Regions from separate parts of the Homo sapiens genome. Here region 1 is linked to region 2. The links come from fine-mapping of genetic effects on gene expression. A gene starts in region 2. The other region holds a variant in brackets. All regions are shown on one strand. Distances are between the middles of the regions. Region 1 overlaps APPBP2 (amyloid beta precursor protein binding protein 2). Region 2 holds the start of APPBP2 (amyloid beta precursor protein binding protein 2).

What was found. PIP is the estimated chance that this variant, and not a neighbour inherited with it, causes the effect.
Region 1: its variant is fine-mapped to the expression of APPBP2 in gastroesophageal junction (GTEx, PIP 0.99).

What each region holds. Positions count from the first base shown.
Region 1 is chr17:60,432,059-60,443,719 of GRCh38, forward strand. It overlaps APPBP2 (amyloid beta precursor protein binding protein 2), which reads right to left. Exons shown (of 13, transcript NM_006380.5): 13 at 11,100-11,661. It also overlaps the pseudogene RPL12P38 and the pseudogene HMGN2P42. Among named protein-coding and RNA genes, the nearest start is that of CHCT1, 15 kb to the left of the region's middle. The variant C/T (reference allele first, on the strand shown) is at 5,144.
Region 2 is chr17:60,522,525-60,533,928 of GRCh38, forward strand. It overlaps APPBP2 (amyloid beta precursor protein binding protein 2), which reads right to left and starts at 3,718. Exons shown (of 13, transcript NM_006380.5): 1 at 3,270-3,718. The coding sequence starts at 3,407. RefSeq lists enhancers at 2,629-3,337, 3,058-3,327 and a silencer at 3,408-3,547.

The DNA.
Region 1 (11,661 bases), 90 kb before region 2:
CCCAGCACTCTGGGAGGCTGAGGTGGAGGTTTGTTTGAGCTCAGGAGTTCCAGACTAGCCAGGGCGATATGGGAAAACCCCATCTCTACAAAAAAATTAGCTGTTCATAGTGACGCACACCTGTAGTCCCAGCTATTTGGGAGGCTAAGGTGGGAGAATCGCTTGAGCCCATGTGTCAGTCTTTTCTCGCACTGCTAATAAAGACATACCTGAGACTGGGTAATTTATAAAGGAAAGAGGTTTAATTGACTCAGTTCCACGTGGCTGGGGAGGCCTCACAGTCATGGCAGAAGGCAAATGAGGAGCAAAGTCACATCTTACATGGCAGCAGGCAAGAGAGTGTGTACAGGAGAACTCCCCTTTATAAAACCATGAGATCTCATGAGACTTATGAGAACAGCATGGAAAAAAACCCACCCTCATGATTCAGTTACCTCCCACTTGGTCCCTCCCACAACATGTGGGTATTATTACAATTAGAGGTGAGATTTGGGTGGGGACACAGAGCCAAACCATACCATACCGCCCCGGCCCTTCCCAAATCTCATATCCTCACATTTTAAAACCAATCATGCGTTCACAACAGTTCCCCAAAGTTTTAATTCATTTCAGCATTAACCCAAAAGTTCAAGTCCAACATCTCATCTGAGACAAGGCAAGTCCCTTCCGCCTATGAACCTGTAAAATCAAAAGCCAAGTTAGTAACTTCCTAGACACAATGGGGTTGCAGGCATTGGGTAAATACACCCATTCCAAACGGGAGAAATTGGGCAAAATGAAGAGACTACAGGTCCCATACAAGTCCAAAATCCAACAGGGCAGTCAAATATTAAAGTTCCAAAATGATCTCTTTTGACTCCATGTCTCACACTGAGGTCATGCTGATGCAACAGATAGGTTCCCATGGTCTTGGGCAGCTCCAGCCCTGTGGCTTTGCAGGATACAGCCCCACTCCTGGCTGCTTTCACAGGCATTGAGTGTCTGCAGCTTTTCCAGGCACATGGTGAGCTGTTGGTGGATCTACCATTCTGGGGTCTGGAGGGCAGTGGGCCTCATCTGACAGCTCCACCAGGCAGTGCCCCAGTGGGAACTCTGTGTGGAGTCTCCTACCTTACATTTTCCTTCCATACTGCCCTAGGAAAGGTTCTCCATGAGGGCTCCACCCCTACAGCATACCTCTGCCTGGACATTCAAGCATTTCCATTCATCCTCTGAAATCTAAGTGGAGGTTCCCAAACCTCAATTCTTGACTTCTGTGCATCCACAGGCTCAACACCATGTGGAAGCTGCCAAAGTTTGTGGCTTGCACCTTCTGAATCTATGGCCCAAGCTGTACCCTTCTAGCCATGCTGGAGCAGCTGGGATGCAGGGCACCAAATCCTGAGCCTGCACACAGCAGGTGAGCCCTGGACCTGGCCCAGGAAAACATTTTTTCCCTTCTAGACCTCTGGGCCTGTGATGGGAGGGGCTTCCAAGAAGGTCTCTGACATGCCCTGGAGACATTTTCCCCATTGTCTTGGGGATTAGCATTTGGCTCCTCCTTACTTATGCCAATTTCTGCTGCCAGCTTGAATTTCTCCCCAGAAAATGAGTTTTTCTTTTTCTTTTTCTTTTTTTTTCACTAGTTGTCAAATGATCCTTTATTGAAATATTTTCCTTTGTGCTTAACTAGCTGGGCATTCCACAGCACCACTGTTGATGTCATCTATGATGTCATGAGGGTGGCGGCCATCAACATTACAACCCACAGAGACTGGGCAGTCCCCAGGATCTCTTTAATGGTTCCAGAGAGTTCTCTGGCTAAGGATCGGTGCTCCATCTGTCGAGCAAGGTTGACGATCTCATCAAAAGTGATATTCCCACTGTGTTTAATGTTTTTCTGTTTCTTTCTGTCTCTGGTGGTTCCTTGAGGGCTTTGATGATCAGGGCAGAGGCAGAAGGCACCACCTCAATCTGGGCCTGTCTGTTCTGAATGGTCAGTTTCACTGTAATCCTCAGGCCCTTCCAGTCACCCGTTGCCTTGGCAATGTCACCACCAACGTTTTTTGGAGACAGACCCAGGGGGCCGATCTTGGGGGCCAGGGCAGAAGTGGCATCTCCGGTGCACCTCAGGTATATGACTTTGATCTCGTTGGGGTCGAACTTTGGCGGCATGGTGGAGGCGGCTGGTGTCAGATGAACCCGGATTCGGGACAACCGAAGAAAGTTGCACCTTGGCCTCCTCCAAGCCGAAAGCCAAGAGCGAGTTTTTCTTTTTCTATTGCATTGTCAGGCTGCAAATTTTGTGAACTTTTTTTTTCCAAGCCAAACTGTATCCAGCTTTATTAAAGATACTTTCCATAAACAGTCATGGTATTTCAGGCAGGACATGGGCAGACAATCATTAACAGTATACAACAACTTTCAAACTCCCTGGATTCTTCAGTGGACTACCAAAAAGAAAGCCAGTATAAAACCCAATGAAGTCTTCATCTGATGCTCTGAACAGGGAAAGTTTAGAGTGAGGGTTGATATTTCACATTCAGCATGCTGTTAACTTTTCACAAACCAACCTTGACTTTCAGGAAGTGAAATGAAAATGGCAGAATTTATCTGAAGATTCACAATCTAGAAATGGAACCACTGCTCTTTTGACAGGTGCCATCTCAGTGGCATCTGGAAAGTCCAGATTGCCTGACACTGGTAACCAATGACTAGGGGTCAGGTCCCAACAGACGTCTGGGCTTAAGGGAGTTAAGTCTATGCTGAAAGATGGAAAGGGAGAAGAGGACATAAAAATAAATTTGTTTTTCCATACCGCAAGCCTTTTGTGCCAAGGTGGCCATGTGTATCAAAGCCAGGGAATCCCTCCTCCTGGGAGCCAAAAGGAAGTCTCTAAAAACTAGAAGGGAAAGGTGTTTTCCCCATATCAATCCAGCTTCGGAGTCATTCTATTAGTGACGTATGCCCCTTCCCCTAAAAACAACAATGAAGTGTTCTGTGTGCTAACAACGTAGCTTAAAAAAAAAAAGTAAAATAAAATTCTGCATTTTTATAAATCTTGATAAAAAATAGTATTTCAAACTGTATAGTCACCAGATGTACACAGTTATCAAAAATGCACACACTTCACTTGGCATCTCCAGCACCTTCAGCTTTCTGTGCCTGATCTGTTTTGGCATCTTCATTTTCTGCAGGGCTATTCCCTCCTTGCCAGCATCAGCTTTTCCCTTTTTCCCTTTGGGTACCTTCTCTCCCTTCTTTGCAGGGGCCATTTTAGGCTTGGGCTCCGGCTTTGGAAAAGCAGGTTTAGCAGACAACCTCGCGGATCTTTTCTGTGGTTCGTCCTTCGTCTTGGCTTTATCTCCTTTAGCATCCCCTTCAGCCTTTCTCTTGGTCATGGTGGCGGCGACGATGGCATTGAGACGTAGGCACTGGGCGCAGGATGCAGCGGCGCGCGGGCTTTGCTCGGTTCGGGGATCGTTCTCGCCTCTTCTTCCTCCAAATTTTGTGAACTTTTATCATTTCCAGGAGGGTAAGTAGGTCCAAACATTCCCCAAAAACACAAATGACATATTTTCCAGGGCTCTGCCTGAGGCAGCAGCATATAGGGTGCAGGGCTGCCCTGGAGCAGGAGAGGCCAGGGCAGATGTGTGTGACTCTTCTCCCTCCCTCCCTCGATTTGTGTTCAGAAGTAAGTATCGTCATAGACTGACAAGGCTAAAATGAATATCAATCTAGTCTCGAAGAAGGAGTTCAGGGAAGCATGAATGGGGGAAGCGGGGAGGAAGCGCCATTTCTTTCCTCCTTAGAGTCATCGCCTCCTGGAAGTGGCAAGATGAGACGGCCAAGGCATAGGCCTGGGGCCAGCCTGGCTTGGCTAGACCCTGACAGTTTTGTCAAAGCAGGGAGGATTTCAGAGAGAAGGGAAGCCGGGCTGGAGGGTGTCCATGATGACTATGGGCTTTCCAATGTTTTCTACTCCTAAGAGATTTCAGAAATGTGGCTGTTTTGGGAACAGTCCAAAAACACGAAGTATCCCCAGTAGTCAAGGCAGCACTGCCACCTAGAGGAATTGTGAGACACTACAGCCTTGTTCTTTCAACCAACATGTGCAAACCAGCGTGTGCAAAAGATGAAGATGAGAGAAGGGAGCCAGGGGTTCGTTTATCAACCTTGAGAACAATCGGGACGCATAAAGGCAAAAATGGACAACAAGTGAGGCTTGGTTTTGAAGCTTTCTTTCTTTCTTTTTTCCTTAGACGGAATCTCGCTCTGTCGCCCAGGCTGGAGTGCAATGGCGCAGTCTCGGCTCACTGCAACCTCCGCCTCCCGGGTTCAAGCGATTCTCCTGCCTCAGCCTCCCAGGTAGCTGGGCTTACAGGAGCGCGCCACCAAGCCTGGCTAATTTTTTTGTATTTTCAGTAGAGACGGGGTTTCACCATGTTGTCCAGGCTGGTCTCAAACTCCGCTGGCCTCCGCCTACCAAAGTGCTGAGATTACAGGCGTGAGCCACCACACCCGGTCAATTATTGTATTTCTTGTTTATTAACTGTCTTCTTCCCTTAGAATGTAAGTTCCACAGGGTTAGAGATTTTTGTCTGTCCTGTTCATTGCTGTATCCAAAGCAATTACAATAGTATTCAACATATAATAGGTACTTAGCAAACTTTTAATGAATGAACCAACCCAAAACAGAGAATTCTGACCAACCACCTCCTCGTTCAGAGGGGAAAACAGAGGCCCAAGAAGAAAGGCGACTTCTCCAAGGTTGTGCAGGAAGTCAATGGCAGAACTGGAACGACAACTCAGACCTGAGGTCCCCCAGGCCAGCGCACTTCCTACATACCAACGACATATGTTTCACCTACTCTTGGCCCACACACTCATTTCTCACAAGATAGAAATAACCCTCAAGACTAAAATGTATTACTTCTTCTCCTTCTTCTTCTTCTTTTTTTTTTTTAAGACAGTCTCACTCTGTCACCCAGGTTGGAGTGTAGTGGTGCAATCTCCACTCACCACAACCTCTGCCTCCCGGGTTCAAGCGATTCTCCTGCCCTATCTCCAGAGTTGCTGGGATTACAGGCGCCCGCCACCACGCCCAGCTAATTTTTGTATTTTTAGTAGAGATGGGGTTTCACCATGTTGTCCAGGCTGGTCT[C/T]GAACTCTTGACCTCAGGTGATCCGCCCACCTCAGCCTCCCAAAGTGCTGGGATTACAGGCATTAGCCACTGCGCCTAACCAAAATGTATTACTTCTTCTAGAATTTTTATTTTTTAAAAGTATCTCTACCCAAAAGTATAATGGTGGACTTGGGAACACCAGAAACAGGTTGTTGGAGAGGCTATTGGGAAGTGGGGAGCCTTGGTGGAAATCCCCAAATCATACCTTGGCCTATGCTGCCTTAGGGGTGAGGCTCATCCTAGAGAAAGTGCCTCACTATCGGAGCCTTCGAGAAGGGTCCTTTTCCTTAGAGAATAAAGGGTACTTTCCCTAAAGTTTTACTTTCAGTTTTTTTTGTTTTTTTTTTTTGAGACGGAGTCTCTGTCACCCAGGCTGGAGTGCAGTGGCGCAATCTTGGCTCACTGCAAGCTCCGCCTCCCGGGTTCACGCCATTCTCCTGCCTCAGCCTCCAGAGTAGCTGGGACTACAGGCGCCCAATGGTGCCCGGCTAATTTTTGTATTTTTAGTAGAGACGGGGTTTCACCGTGTTAGCCAGGATGGTCTCAATCTCATGACCTCGTGATCCACCCGCCTCGGCCTCCCAAAGTGCTGGGATTACAGGCTTGAGCCACCGTGCCCAGCTGTTTCCTGACTTTTTAATGATCGCCATTCTAACTGGTGTGAGATGGTATCTCATTGTGGTTTTGATTTGCATTTCTCTGATGGCCAGTGATGATGAGCATTTTTTCATGTGTTTTTTGGCTGCATAAATGTCTTCTTTTGAGAAGTGTCCGTTCATATCCTTTGCCTACTTTTTGATGGGGTTGTTTGTTTTTTTCTTGTAAATTTGTTTGAGTTCATTGTAGATTCTGGCTATTAGCCCTTTGTCAGATGAGTAGGTTGCAAAAATTTTCTCCCATTCTGTAGGTTGCCTGTTCACTCTGATGGTGGTTTCGAGTTTTAAATGGAAGAGGCTCCTAACCGCGAATGTAGTGACTAACTACTGCCTGACCCACTCCCACCCCAGTCTCTCAGGAGTCACCCGAAGTTTCCTCTTTATAATAATTATCACAAATATATGTAACTGAAGAGAAATAGCAGAGTTTTGCATCCATTCTCACTGGATTTTTGTGTCAAACTTGTGAGGGAAACTCCTTCTCCCCATTACAAAGAAAACAGGCTATGGCCAGGCTTGGTGGCTCAGATGTGTAATCCCAGCACTTTGGGAGACCAAGGTCGGTGGATCACTTGAGGTCAGTAGTTCGAGACCAGCCTAGCTAACACGGCAAAATCCCATCTGTACTAAAAATACAAAAATTGGCCAGGCTTGGCGGTGCGTGCATGTAATCCCAGCTACTCAGTAGGCTGAGGCAGGAGAATTGCTTGAACCCAGGAGGCAGAGGTTGCAGCGACCCGAGATTGTGCCACTGCACTGTAGCCTGGGTGACGGAGCGAGACTCTGTCTCAAAAAAAAAAAAAAAAAAAAACAAGAAGAAGAAGAAAGAAAAAGAAAACAGGGGCTTAGGGGCTGACTTAGTTGAGTTGAGATGCTGACTGCCCAAGCTTTTTGACTCCTCCACACACAAGGCTCTGTCTTTTTGATTTTTCTTGTTTTTGTAAACAGACATTTGCTTTTTTTTTTTTTTTTTTTTTTTTTGAGACAGAGTCTTGCTCTGTCGCCAGGCTGGAGTGCAGTGGTGCTATCTCGGCTCACTGCAAGCTCCACCTCCTGGGTTCATGCCATTCTCCTGCCTCAGCCTCCCCAGTAGCTGGGACTACAGGCGCCCGCCACCATGCCTGGCTAATTTTTTTGTATTTTTAGTAGAGACGGGGTTTTGCCATGTTAGCCAGGATGGTTTCGCTCTCCTGACCTCGTGATCTGGCCGCCTCGGTCTCCCAAAGTGCTGGGATTACAGACGTGATCCACCGCGCCGAGCCTTTTTTTTTTTTTTTTTTTTTTTGAGACAGGGTCTCACTCTGTCACCCAGCCTGAAGTGCAGTGACATGATAATAGCTCACTGCAGCCTCGATTTCCTGGGCTCAAGTGACCCTTCTGCCTCAGCCTCTTGAGTAGCCGGGACTACAGGCATGTACCATCATGCCTGGCTAACTTTAAAAATGTTTTTTTGTAGACACGGATTCTCGCCATGTTGCCCAGGCTGGTCTCAAACTCCTGACATCAAGCAATCCACCTGCTTCGGCCTCCCAAAGTGCTGGAATTACAGGCATGAGAATATGTGATAGGAAAAGAGTATACAGACTTGAAAAAAAATAGAACGTTTAGAAATGAAAAATAACTATTCTTGAGCCAGGCACAGTGGCTCAAGCCTGTAATCCCAGCTACTCAGGAGGCTGAGGCAGAAGGATTGCTTGAATCCAGGAGTTTGAAACCAGCCTGGGCAACAGTGAGAACCTGTCTAAAAACAAAACAGAAACACGCACCTCATAGCTAAGTGAAACAGGAGGCAACATCTGGGTCATTCTTAGCTCATAGAGAGAAATAATCAGTCATTACGTAACAGGAAAGAAAAATACTCAAACTATTTAAAGAGCAGCAGGAATGAAAAAGCCTGATTCTGTACTTGGAAAGAATTTAAATGCAAATCAACTTTCACTTGTTACACAAAAGTTCTAATTCAAAAATAAATTACACTAGAGGTTTTTCAAGGCACTTTCTGGAAGTGATCATTCACAGATTTTTTTCAAACTTATGCATCATATTTAACTGCTTGTGCAAAGTGAAGTCTGATTTTTAAAAATTATTGTAAAATACACATAAAGTTTACTGTCTGAACAATATATATTATATATATAGTTGTAAAATACACAAAATTTATTGTCTGAACTATATATTATATATAAAATATATAATATATAGTTATAAAATACACATAAAGTTTACTGTCTGAACAATACATATATATATCTTTTTTTTTTTTTCTTTTTTTTTAGGTGGAGTCTTGCTCTGTCACCCAGGCTGGAGTGCAGTGGCACAATCTCAGCTCACTGCAACCTCCGCATCCTGGGTTCAAGCAATTCTCCTGTCTCAGCCTCCCTAGTAGCTGGGACTACAGGCGCCCGCCACCACACCCGGCTAATTTTTGTATTTTTAGTAGAGATGGGGTTTCACCATGTTGGTCAGGCTGGTCTCAAACTCCTGATCTCAGGTGATCAACCCGCCTCAGTCTCCCAGAGTGCTGGGATTACAGGCATGAGCCACTGCGCCCAGCCCTGTCTGAACCATTTTATATGTAAAATGCACTAGTATTAATTTTCACAGTGTTGTGAAACCAATCTCCAGAACTTTTGCATCACACAAAACACAAACTCTAGATCCATTAGTGCAGTGGTCCCCAACCTTTTTGTCACCAGGGGTTGGCTTTGTGGAAGACAGTTTTTCCACAGATCGGAAGCAGGGAGAGGTGGGGTGCTTTTGAGATGATTTAAATGCATTAAATTTTTTTAAAAAATTGAGACAGGGTCTCACTGTGTCATCCGGGCTGGGGTGCAGTGGCACAATCACGTCTCACTGCAGCCTCAACCTCCCAGGCTCAAGCAACCCTCCCACCTCAGCCTCCTGAGCAGCTGGGACCACAGGCATGTACCACCAGACCCAGCTAATTTTTTGTATTTTTTGGTAGAGACGAGGTTTTGCTATGTTCAGGTCTCGAACTCCTGAGCTCAAGTGATATGCCTGCCTTGGCCTTCTAGAGTGCTGGGATTACAGGTGTGAGCCACTGTGCCTGGCCTCAAGCATATTACATTTACTGTGCACTTTATTTCTATTACTATTACATTGTAATATATAATGAAATAATTATACAACTCACCATAATGTAGAATCAGTGGGAGCCCTGAGCTTGTTTTCCTGTACTAGACAGTCCCATCTGGGGGTGATGGGAGACAGTGACAGATCATCAGGCATTAGATTCTCATAGGAAGTGCATAACCTAGACCCCTCACACGTGCAGTTCACAATAGGGTTCACCTAATGCTGCCACTGATCTGACAGGAGGTGGAGCTCAGGCAAGTGATGGGGATGGGCTGTAAATACAGAAGCTCTGCTCGTTCACCCACCCACTGCTCACCTCCTGCCACGTGGCCCAGTGCCTGACAGGCCACAGATCCCCGGGGGTTGGGGACCCCTGCATTAGGCAACTACTCCCCATTTTCCCCTATCCCCAGCTCCTGGCAATCACTATCCTACTTTCTGCTTCTATGAATTTGACTACTCTAGATGCATCATCTAATAGTATCATACTCTTTGTGACTGTCTTATTTCACTTAGCATAATGTCTTCAAGGTTTGTCCACATTATAGCTTATGTCAGAATTTCGTATATTCTTATGGCTGAATAATATCCCACTGTATGTATATGCCGTATTTATCAACAGGTTCTCATTCTCTTGCCCAGGCTGGAGTGCAGTGTGGTGTGATCACGGCTCACTCAGCCTCAACCTCCTGGGCTCAAGCAATCCTCCCACCTCAGCCTCCTGAGTAGCTGGGACTACAGGTGTGTGCCACCACGCCCAGCTAATTATTTTTTTGTATTTTTTGTAGAGACAGCATTTCACCTTGTTGCCCAGGCTGGTCTCGAACTCCTGGGCTCAAATAATCCTCCTGCGTCGGCCTGCCTCCCAGAGTTAGGAATACACATGAGCCACCACGCCTGGCCTGCCATATTTATCTGTTCATGCATTGTTAAGACATTTAGGTTGCTTTCGCTTTTGGCTACTGCAAATAATGCTGCTACACGGGTATATAAATATCTGTTCAAGACCCTTTCAATTCTTTTGGATCTATACCCAGAAGTTGAATTGCTGGATCATAAGAGTAATTGTTTTTAATTTTTTGAGCACAGGTGATAGTTTTTCACAGCAGATGCAGCATTTTACATTCCTGTCAACAGTGCACAAGGGCTCTCATTTCTGCACATCCTTGCCAACACTTACTTTCTGTAATAGCCATCCTAATGGGCATTTGTCTATAGAAATGTGCGCTTAAAGTAACTGAGTGTGGTTTGCTAACACACTCAGGACAGTATCTGTCACAGGATAAACTCTATGTTGAATACACAGATCAGCAAAGTTTACAAGTTGGAAAGAGTCTTAACACTGTAAGTTATATGGCCATATGGTAATTGCTTTCACAAAGCTCTAAAATGCTGCATTAATACCAAGTGGCAACTCAAACTTTAAGGGAAGGGTTCCCTTGATCTTTGAGCTTGACAGATGAGCAACACTATCCAGGAAATGGCATTCCACAAGGACGACGAAATCGCATGTTCAGAGGTTCAGTCATGGAGATGTAAAAAGAAACATTTTTAAATTCAGTATCACTGAAGGTGGCAGGCAGTGAAGCTGGTGCTGACTATATTCCAAGTGATGGTGGGATTTTGTCTACAATATTTTCTTCCTAATCTTTAAAAATATGGCTTCGTTTCCTACAACTGGTTTCTGAGTCCTTCAGATTTATGCTGTTTCATGGTGAAGTTTTTTAAAGACCTGATTTTACCCCCTTATTCATGTGAGGAAATAAAACACAAAGAGGGCTGGAATGACGTAACTCAGAATCTTCCAGTTCAGAGACAGCTGGAACTGAAACTCCAATCTAGGCTTTTCTTCACTATTCCAGCAGAACTTTACCAGGTCTCATCATTCATCTTCAGCCTTTAGAGTGAGAGGATTCTTAAAAGAATGGTATACTTTTGTAAAGACTAAAAAATCCCTTTGCATTAATGCAGTGCTTTGTCTTTTTCCAAGTGCTTTTCATCAGCACAATCTCCAGATGTTACCATGCGCCTCCTCTGCCACACATCTTAATTTTCTTGAACAAGAGCACTTTTGTTCTAGTTCCAACAGTTTCTCTCACACTGTTCTCTAATAAAAACAGTCTGCAAAGCTTAATCCCAACCAAAAGCAATCAAAACCAAATTGGAAACAGATACACTATGAATGCAGGAACACTATATTTATTAGGTCAATAATTCATTTTTAGCAATACAAGTACAGAATATATCACAATGCTGGTTACAAACATACTTAGTATGGTTTAATAGTTACAAATAACGGTGGGCACTACAAGTTGGTGAGAATGATATGAAAGGTCATCCTGACACAATGAAGAACCGTCTTCAAAAATCTATTTAATGACCTTAGATATTTCTATAGAAATTATTGTGGCACTATTAGTGGGGATTTTCACGTAAAGATTGTTAGTGTTTTGTTTTTAACTGTTCCATTAAGAACTTTTTATTTTGAGCCTATTAAACTAAAATCCCCTGTTGCTTAATAAAGTATAAAAATAGTACTGACCTGGTAATATTTAATAAAACGTAGCATTCATTCACATCATAAAAGTAGAACTGAAAAGTTTTAGTTACCATGGCAAAATATCTTCCCATAAAAGGAATATACAGAAATGAGTAATGTTACACAAACGGTACCTGCAATGGTTATTTAGTGATCCAACACTTAACTGTGCACCACAAACCAAGTTTTCTAGATATCTATATATA
Region 2 (11,404 bases):
TGCCTAGGCTGGTCTCGAACTCCTGTGCTCAAGCGATCCTTCTGCTTCAGCTTCCCAAAGTGTTGGAATTATGAGTGTGAGCCCTGCGCCTTTACATCTTTAATTCTTTTGTTCTGATCTTAGAAGAAGAGTTCTTTCCCCAACTCCAATATAAGGATAATACCTTAATTTATGCACGGTGAAGGAGGAAAGACCAAAAACAGGCAAGACTCATCAACTCATGTTCCTGCTCAGGGACTTTGCTCCGTAACTTATTTCCCACCACACTTGGATACTCAACCTCATTCTCTTGGTTTCTGCCACTCAGCCAACAAATATATTCTAGTGTCTTCCATTCTTTTTTTTTTTTAAAAAAAAGAAAAAACATTTCATATTTTACCCTTTCTATGCTCTCCCTTCCCTGCTTATACAGCAGTCAACATTCCTGCTTCTTTACCTTCCATTCATTCCATAACCCCATCTCCTAATGCTTTACGATTGTGCCTTTATCTGAAGCTATTACAAAAATTAACACAGTCATACTGTAGTACACCAAACAAGCAGAATGGGGAAATTTGATTCCACAAATACTCCAATTTTGTCTATGACTATGCCTACTGATGGAAATTTGGACTGCAAGAGAGATGTAATTATGAGTTTCTCCTTGGCTTTAAAGTGCAGAAAATTGGAAATTGGAAACAGTAAGCCTCCTAAAATTTTCACAAGTTGGGCAGGGGGTGAGTATCTTATATTTATGTGTGCAGTTATATTGCTTTAAAAAGTTTTTCCAGCCTGGGCAATATATCAAGACCTCATCTATACTAAAAATTAAAAAAAAAAAAATTAGCTAGGCATGGGTGGCATACACCTGTAGTTCCAGCTACTCAGGAGGCTGAGATGGAAAGACTGCTTAAGCCCAGGGGTTCAAGGTTGCGGTGAGCTATGATCACAACTGCACTCCAGCCTGGGCAACAGAGCAAGATCCTGTCTCCACAAAAAAAGTTTCTTATATGTATATGCTAATAGTGTTTAAAAGGAAGAAAAGTCAGGTGCGGTGGCATATGCCTGTAGTCTCAGCTACTCAGTAGGCTGAGGCAGGAGGATAGCTTGAGCCCAGGAGTTCAAGACCAGCTTGGGCAAAACAGCGAGACCCCATCTCTATTTTTTTTAAATTTTAATAAAAAGAATAATTTCTTCTTACATCTCCATTAAAGATTAGAATAGAGTCCTGGGACTGACTTTCACTCCACTTCCATAGAAGCTAATAAAAAAATTAGTGTTATAATATCTTTCATTAAAATAATCTACTATCTTAAGATAGATATCTAAGTAAAAGAGCAAGGAACTCAGGAACTAAATATCAGGTTTGAGACCTTAATTAAATTACTTAACTTTCTCACCAATAAAGCAAGGTTATACTGTACTCTACTTCACAGTTTAATTCTGAAGATTAAACAAAATAACACATAAAAGCACAACATAGTTACAGGCACATGTTTAACACTTCCCTCATCTTAGCACAGTGCCATACTCCCAATAAGCATACAACTATTAAGAAGTAAAAGTGTACCAAAAAGGAGCAATATTAAAACTGTGTGAACTATGTGAAACAGAAATTCTAACAAAAGCACCATCTATTCATACTAATAATCTTCAAATGAAAAGCTTCAATTAGAAGTGAAAGTTACTAAAAGATATTCAAGTATTTTGAACGAATTCAACTAGTAAATACACTTGGATTACATTCCCAATGATTTCCTCTGAGAGATTACATATGAGGTACAAGATTACACATGATTTAATAAAATGGACAGAGAGCACACACAAAGCTGCAGTTTCCCAGGCTGAGAAAGACAAATCTAATTTGTCCTTCCTGGGGAGGAATGTATCTTAAATGAACAAAATTTCCTTAGAATACACAAAAGTAAATCAATGTATCAAAGGGATTAGGAAAAAAGGGAGCTTTTTCTCGAAATCCAAAATAATAATACGCATGACCTAAATGAATCTTCTCCAAATATTTAGGGGGGAAACCCCACTTTAATTGTTAGAATTGGTGCAAAGCAGCTGGATTTAGTAGAACGCAGCCCATCAACTGCTAATTCTGAAAAAAAAAAAAAAAAAAAAAAAAAAATCTAGGGGTGGAGAAAGCAGGCAATCTTCCCAATAAAACAACTGCCACAAAACACTGTACATACGTAAGAACATAAACATCTGTTAAAATATCAGTTTACACTGTTCCAGCCAACTTACAGATCAAGAGGAAGTATTTAAGGTCTAAAAAATAAATTACATTCTACTTTTAGTCACATTTTGCATGGGTGGCTACTGGACACTAGGAGTTATCGACGCGGATTCAAGACAAGGAAGACTGAATAATAAATCCAGTGTTCACATTCAAATGTGGGGGAGAGAAAAGGGCAGGCTCTGAGTCCATAAAGTTCTCCACACTCTGAAAACACTGCAAAAATAGTCCACATCTAAGGACACTTACCCTTGAAACTCCTTGGAGAGTGGCTTGGGAGACTTGCTGTTCAGATTTTTGAGGGGGAGTGATTTAAGAATGCTGCAAGATTGCAACTTTCAAACACAGGAACATAATCTAAAGTGTTTTTTTCTTTCAGTAAAGATCTCTCCCTGTCCTCTTCAAACAGTTGATCAGCACTCCCATTTTCACAAAATCCCTAATTCAAGTATAGAGCCCCTCCTCTCCCACAAAAAAATCAAAGCTTTAAAGAATATGCAAATAAAACACACAGATTATTTCCAATAATCCCTAACTCCTTCCCAATTGGGAAAAGAAAGGAGAAACGAAGGAACACGAAGCAAAAACACCAAAACACTCGGGGAAGGAAGGCGGCGAGATGAGAAAGTAGGAATGGGTGGGGGGAGGAGCACGGAAAAAAGTCCAGCTGATGCTGACACTTAATTGGAAGGAGAGGATGGAAAATATCCTGAAGATACGGGCTAGAAGGAAAGGACTAGGTGGGACAGGGGCGCGATAGAGTAAGTCCACGCAAAAGGCCTACCCAAGAGGGCCACTGTGTAGAAGGGAACACCAACAGGGAGCAAGACTCCCCAAGATTACTTCAAGGCCCCAAAGCTTAAGAGACAGGGCATAGGGAGATGGGGTGCTTCTCCACTGGCAATGCAGACACCGCACCAGACGTTTCGGGAGGCAAGTCTGCCGGAAGGGGTGAGGGGTTAACTGCGGGGGTTCGCAGACGTGGAAGGGGGTGCGGCCCCCGGGGTTGCTGGAGGAGAGCAGAGAGGAGGCCCACGGCGCATACCTTGTAGTAAACATCAAACTGGATGTTCTCGGGCAAGGAGCGGATGTCTCGGCGGGAGCGGATGTAGTTGTCCACGACAGCGGAGATGGCGGTGTTATAGAGAGTCTCTGGGATCCACTCTAGTTCCACGGCCGCCATCTTCCTTCCCTCCTCCTCCGCCTCCTCCGCCTCCTCCTCCCGAAGGCCCCCACCTCCCTCCGTAGCGAACCCCTCTGCGGCCCCGGAGGATTCGGAGGGGCGGTGGCAGCCACGCGGGCGCACGGCAGAAGGCACGGCCGCCCTGCCTCCTCCGGGGGCAAACTGAGGGACGGCGGCAGCGGACGCAGGCCCGAGTAAAAAGTGGGACAGAAAACAGCGGCCAGCCAGGCCAAAAGCGTCACAATCCCGGTTCGAGAGGAACCCGGGTTCCGTCCCAGCGCTGATCTCTGCAGGGGCGGGGCTGCGTGTGCGGCGTCATGACGTAAGCGCACGCCGGCGCGCCGGAGGGGAGGAATGCGGCAGGCGGAAAACTTAGGAAGAGCTGGATGCCTCCCACGGAGAGCGTCCCTTCCAAGCGGCCCCGGAGTGGAGTGGAGTGGAGTGGATAGGGGTAGACTTTTCACACGGGGACAAATTATTACAGGATATCTGCGCCCCCTGTTCCGAGTCACTCGGGGCCATCGGTTACTTCAGCAGGTTCTCTGCATCACGGACCCTTTTGAGGCTCAGGTAAAAGTTTGGATCCTCTCCCCACAAACGAGCAAAATTATCTGTACATTGAAAATTATGCATTGAGAAAATTCACATTACTCTAGAAACCCTTAGACTGCAGTTCCTAACCCAAGTTAAGAACCCGCGGTCCAGGAACTAGGGGTAACGATAGAAGAGAGACTTGTTTTTCTTTGTATAACCATTTGCACCGTTGTAACTTTTTGACCATGTTTCTTTATCCAAATGAAATTTCCGAAAAAAGAAAACTCCTGCCCCAGAACTTCGTAGGAAAACTAGCTTGATTATGGAATTACAAATAATAGTAAGAGAAAAAAGGCTAAGTGGTGGCCGTGATAGGACTTAATGGTATTTCAATTCCCAGAGTTACAGTGGCGGCTTCAAGGGATTGTTGAATAATTGGGAGTACTTGTTTCAGCTTCTTTCCTTCCTCAGCCTGAACATCTGCTGTTTATGTAACTTAATTTCCTAAGTCTGCGATTTCAAGAATTTGATGCAACATCTTTCTGTTCTAGGAATTTACCATGGAAATTATTGGCCATAATTGTTGGTGACACTATCAAACTCATAGTCACTCTATAACGATGTAAGTCCAGAAAACAGCCATAATAATAATGTCCTGATTGATATTTAGAGCTAAAAGAAGTGGAAAGAGTTATTTCAATTTACCCTTCACCTGGTACTTCAGTGTTAAGTGGTTAAATAATTCCACAAAAAATAAACACTCTTAATCTTCTTCAGTCTATATAAATTCTTACTCTATACTGTGAACCTAGGAAAGCTGTGGATGGCCTCAAGATCAGATTGCCAGTTTAGCAAGTAAAAAACTACAAGGCTGGGCGCGGTGGCTCACACCTGTAATCTCAGCACTTGGGAGGCCGAGGCGGGTGGATCACGAGGTCAGGAGATCGAGACCATCCTGGCTAACACGGTGAAACCCCGTCTTTACTAAAAATACAAAAAATTAGCCCGTGGTGGCGGGCGCCTGTAGTCCCAGCTACTCGGGAGGCTGAGGCAGGAGAATGGCGTGAACCCGGGAGGCGGAGCTTGCAGTGAGCCAGGATCGCGCCACTGCACTCCAGCCTGGGCAACAGAGCGAGACTCCGTCTCAAAAAAAAGAAAAAAAAAATTACAAGTGCCCAGTCACATCTTAATGTCAGATAAACAACAAATGGTTTTGAAATGTAAGTATGTTCTGTGCAATAGTTTTGCTCATGCCTTCGGAGCCACTCAAGTGTATCAGTTCATTCAGCAAATCCTTCATCACTTCTTAGACACTGGCGCTTTTGAAGATCAGGATCCCTGCCCCACATAAAAGAATAATTATTATCTCTGCAAATATTGCAGGGGACATATTTATACTAAAAACTTATTTGTGACCAGCCTGGGCAACATAGCAAGACCCCATCTCTACAAAAAAAAAATAGCCACATGTGGTGGTGTGCACCTGTAGTCCTAGCTACTCAGGAGGCTGAGGCAGGAGGATTACTTGAGCCCAGAATGTTGAGTGAGCCATGATCATGCCACTGCACTCCAGCCTGGGTGGCAGAATGAGACCCTGTCTCAGAAAACAACAACAACAAAAAACTTTGTTGTTCATCTGAAACTCACATTTAACTGGACACCTGTATTTTATCCAGCAATCCTACCTAAAGGGATCCATGAATCCCCTAACATTGAATGCACATGTTCTTGGACATTTTGGCTAAATCAGGACCCGTATTAAGCTCCTGTAAACAGGTAAAGGTGTGTCAGACACACATATTGATTGCTTTATGGACCTTAGATGCTGAGTGTATTAGTCCGTTTACACACTGCTAATAAAGACATAGCTGAGACTGGGCAATTTATAAAAGAAAGAGGTTTATTGGGTTTACAGTTCCACATGGCTGAGGAGGCCTCACAATCATGGTGGAAGGCAAGGAGGAGCAAGTCACATCTTAATGTGGATGGCAGCAGGCAAAAAGAGACAACCGAAAGGAGTTTCTCCTTATAAAACCATCAGATCTCATGAGACTACCACAAGAACAGCGTGGGAGAAACCACCCCCATGATTCAGTGATCTCCCACTGGGTCCCTCCCACAACACGTGGGAATTATCAGAGTACAATTCAAGATGAGATTTGGGTGGGGACACAGAGCAAAACCATATGACTGAGTTAGACATTAAAAAATGTATATAGTCACAAAGGGGACTCTGGATGGAAGGGCCTCTTGATCCCTTCTTCACTGCTTTCAGATTGAAAGTTATTCAGATGTGTATGATGGACTAGGAGGTCGTGACCAAGAGCAGATAAACTGCCAGAAAGGATAAGTCCCCTGAGAAGGACTTAGTCCTGGCAGTATTCATCACCTTCTAACTGAAGAGCCCTTGGGCCCTAAATGACCAGCAGATATACCCAGATACTATGTTGAGGACCTTGGGTGAACCTCTGAGACTTGCTGGCTTCAGATGCCAGCATGGCCACAGAGGGGTAGAGCACCAAGTGGGCCCTTGGGGTTCCTGATTCCAGGACTTGACTCCTAAATGGCATTTCTGACCTGCCCTGGTCCAGAGTAGAGCCTTCTGCCCTGACGGTTGAGTCTCTGCCCAGACAGCATTCACCACACACTGACTTGAGAGGCCGTGGGCCTTAAGGAAACATCCGTGGAAGTCTGGCAGTACTCCCTGTGGCCTGTGGTGATGGTGGTTACAGAGTGAGGCTAGTCTCCCTTTGGGAAGGAAAGGGAAGAGTAGGAAGGACTGTGTCTTACGGTTTGAGAGCCAGCTCAGCTGCAATACAGTATAACACCAGGTAGACTTCTGAGATTTTTTACTCTAGTCTCTGACTCCTGGACTGTACATCTGGACCTACCCAGGGCCTGGGGGAACTCGCCACCCTGAAGGGAAGGACACACGCCTGGATGGCTTTGCCATCTGCTAATTGTAGAGCCCCAGGGCCTTGAGTGAACATAAGCAGTAGCCAGGGAGTGGTTACAGCAGGTCTTGGGTGAGACCCAATGCTATGCTGGCTTCATCTCTAACCCAGTCCAGTCATAGTGGGGGTGGCCACAGAGGTACTTCTGTCACTCCACTCCCAGCTTTATGTGGCTCAGAACAGAGAGAGAAATTCCATTTGTTTGGGAGAAAGTAAGGTAAGAGAACAAGAGTCTTTGCCTGGTAATCCAGAGAATTTCTCCCAGATGCTGTCCTTGACCATCAAGGTGGTACCCCTAAGAGTCTGCAAGAACTTCAGAGAACTACAGTGTTATTGGGTTCGGGGTAATCCCTCCCCCAGCTCCAGGCAGCTCAGCACAGAGAGAGAGACTGTTTGTGTTTAAAGAATGTAAGGGAAGAGAACAAGAGTTTCTGCCTGGTAATCCAGGGAATTCCCTTGGATCTTACCCATGAACACCAAGGTGGTACCTCTACAAGTCAGCAAGAACCACAGCGTTACTAGGCTTGAGGTGCCCCCTAAAGCAGATACAGCTTAGATCACAGTAGTGAAGTCCTTTGAAATACCTGGAAAGCCTTCCCAAGAAGGACAAGTACAAACAAGCCCAGACACTGGAGACTGATAATATCCAACTCTTCAATGCCCAGAGAGTGAAGAATATCTATAGCATCAGCACCATCCAGGAAAACATGACCTCACCAAATGAACTAAAGAAACCACCAGAGACCAGTCCTAGAGAAACAGACATATGAGACCTTTCAGACAGAATTCAAAATAGCCATGTTGAAGAAACTCAAAGAAATTCAAGATAATGGAAAGAAGGAATTCAGAATTCTATCAGATAAACTTAACAAATAAATCGAAATAATTAAAAAGAAGCAGAAATTCTGGAGCTGAAAAATGTAATTAGCATACTGAAGAAAGCATCAGAATCTTTTTTTGTTTGTTTTTTTTTTTTTTGAGGTAAGGCCATACTCTGTTACTGAGGCTGGAGTGCAGTGGCAGGATATCAGCTCACTACAGCCTCAGCCTCACAGGCTCAAGCAGTCTTCCTGCCTCAGTCCCCTGAGAAGCTGAGACTACAGGTGTGTACCACCATGCTCGGCTTGTATTTTTTGTAGAGATAGAGTTTTGCTATGTTGCCCAGGCTGGTCTTGAACTCCTGGGCTCAAGTGATCTATCTGCTTCAGCCTCTCAAAGTTCTGGGATTACAGGTGTGAGCCACCACACCCAGCCTCGAGTCTTTTAGTAGCAGAATTATTCAAGCAGAAGAAAGAATTAGTGAGCTTGAAGACAGGCTATTTGAAAATACATGATCAGGGAGACAAAAGAAAAAGGAATAAAAAATAATGAAGCATGCCTACAGGATCTAGAAAATAGCCTAAAAAGGGCAAATCTAAGAGTTATTGACCTTACAGAGGAGGTAGAAAAAGAGATTGATGTAGAAAGTTTATTCAAAGGGATAATAACTGAGAACTCCTCAAACTTAGAGAAAGATACCAATATCCAAGTCCAAGAAGGTTATAGAACACCAAACAGATTTAACCCGAAGAAGACTACCTCAAAGCATTCAATAATCAAACTCCCAAAGATCAAGGATAAATAAAGGTTTCCCTGACAAAAGCTGAGGAATTTCAACACCAGACCTGTCCTTCAAGAAATGCTAAAGGGAATACTTCAATGAGAAAGAAAAAGACATTAATGAGCAATAAATCATCTGAAGGTACAAAATCACTGGTAATAGGACATAAACAGAAAAATAGAGAACATTATAACACTATAACCATGGTGTAGAAACTACTTATTCTAAGTAGAAAGACTAAATGATGAACCAATCAAAAATAATAACTGTGACAACTTTTCAAGACATAGACTATATAAGATATAAATAGAAATAGCAAAAAGTTAAAAAACAGAGATGAAGTTAAGACATAGAGTTTTTGTTAGTTTTTTTTTTTTTGCTTGTTTGTTTATGTAAATAGTGTTAAATTGTTATCAGGTTATAATAATGGGTCATAAGATAGTATTTGCAAGCCTCATGTTAGCCTAAAACCAAAAAACATACAATGGATACACAAAAAATAAAAGGCAGGAAACTAAATAATATCAGAGAAAATCACTTTCACTAGAGGAAAACACAGGAAGGAAACAAGACCACAGAACAATTAGAAAACAAATAAAATGACAGGAATAAGTTCTTTTTTTTTTTTTTTTGAGACAGAGTTTCGCTCTTGTTGTCCAGGCTGGAGTACAGTGGCACAGTCTCAGCTCACTGCAACCTTTGCCTCCTGAGTTCAAGCGATTCTCCTGCCTCAGCCTCCTGAATAGCTGGGATTACAGCCATGCGCCACCAAGCCCAGCTAATTTTGTATTTTTAGTAGAGACGGGGTTTCACCATGTTGGCCAGGCCGGTCTCGAACTCCTGACCTCATGATCCACCCATCTCAACCTCCCAAAGTGCTGGGATTACAGGTGTGAGCCACCGCTTCTGGCAAGAATAAGTTCTTATCAATGGTAATATCAAATGTAGATGGACTAAACTCTTCAATAAAAAGACACAGAGTGGCCGAATGGGTGAAAAAACAAGACCCATTGATATGTTGCCTATAAGAAACACACTACACCTATAAAGACACACATAAACTAAAAATAAAGGGTTGGAAAAAGATATTCCATGCCAATGGAAACCAAAAAAAGAGCAGGAGTAGTCAATGGGATATCATCTCACTCCAGTTAAAATGGCTTCTATGCAAAAGACAGACAATAACAAATGTTGGCAAGGATGTAGAGAAAAGGGAACCCTCATACACTGTTGGTGGGAATGTAAATTAGTACAACCACTATGGAGAATGGTTTGGAGGTTCCTCAGAAAACTAGAACTAGAGCTACCATGTGATCCAGCAATCCCATTGCTGGGTATAGACCCAAAAAAACGGAAATCAGTATTTCAAAGAGATACCTGCACTCCAATGTTTGTTGCAGCACTATTCACAATAGCTAAGATTTAGAAGCAACCTAAGTGTTCATCAACAAATGAATGGATAAAGAAAATGTGTTACATATACACAATAGAGTACTATTTAGCCTTAAAACAAACAAGATCCAGGCCAGGCGCAGTGGCTCCCACCTGTAATCCCAGCACTTTGGGAAGCCGAGGTGGGCGGATCACAAGGTCAAGAGATCAAGACCATCCTGGCCAACATGGTGAAACCCTGTCTCTACTAAAAATACAAAAATTAGCTGGGCATGGTGGTGCACGCCTCTAGTCCCAGCTATTTGGGAGGCTGAGGCAGGAGAATCACTTGAACGTGGGAGGCAGCGGTTGCAGTGAGCTGAGATTGCGCCACTGCGCTCCAGCCTGGTGACAGAGCAAGACTCCATCTCAAAAAAAAAAAAAAAGATCCTGTCATTTTCAGCAACATGGATGGAACAGGAAATCATTAGTGTTAACTGAAATAAGCCAGGCACAGAAGTACAAACATTACATGTTCTCACTTATTTGTCGGATCTAAAAATCAAAACAATTGAACTCATGGTCACAGAGTGTAGAAGGATAGTTACCAGAGGCTGGGAAGGGTAGTCGGGGGTTGGGAAGGAGATGGGGATGGTTAAAGGCTACCAAAAACTAGAAAGAATGAATAAAGCCTACTATTTGATAGCACAACAGGGTGACTGTAGTTAATAATAACAATTGTACGTTTTTAAATAACCAGAAGATCGTAATTGGATTGTTTGTAACACAAAGGATAAATGCTTGAGGAGATGAATACCCCATTCTCCATGATGTGATTGTTTCACACTGCATGCCTGTATCAAAACATCTCATGTATCCCATAAAAATATATATACTATGTACCCACAAAAATTAAAAATTTAAATCTTTTTTTGGGCCAGGTGCAGTGGCTTATGCCTGTAATCCTAGCTACTTGGGAGGCTGAGACAGGAGAATTGCTTGAACCTGGGAGGCAGAGGTTGCAGTGAGCCAAGATGGTGCCACTGCCATCCAGCCTGGGAGACTCCAGAGTGAGACTCCGTCTAAAATGTAGATATATTTCCACATCAAGGGATGCTTATTTAAAATGGGAGAATGATAGGGAAGCAATTCTAAAGAATAACCCTCATTTATAGCCTCTAGTCCCAAAACAGTCTCACACTACATGTCAGTTTTCTTTCTAAGTCATCAATCAGATCAGATCAGAGTACTCTCCTGCCCTAAAGCTCGCAGATATTCTGAAGAAGTGCCCAGACAAGATTATTACTGGGTGAAGTGGGGAATAAGTGAAAGGGTATCACCAGAGACAGGTTAACTTTGAAGGGAAAGCAGTAATTTTGGATATAATAGCCAAAGAGGGCATTGGTTAAAAGGTGACGTATAAACCAAACGTGAACCAAGTGCCCAGAGCGTTGGAACTCATAGCCCTACCCTCCACTTCCAGGGAGAGAAGAGGGACTAAAGGCCACCAATGGCCAATGACTTAATGAGTCGTGACT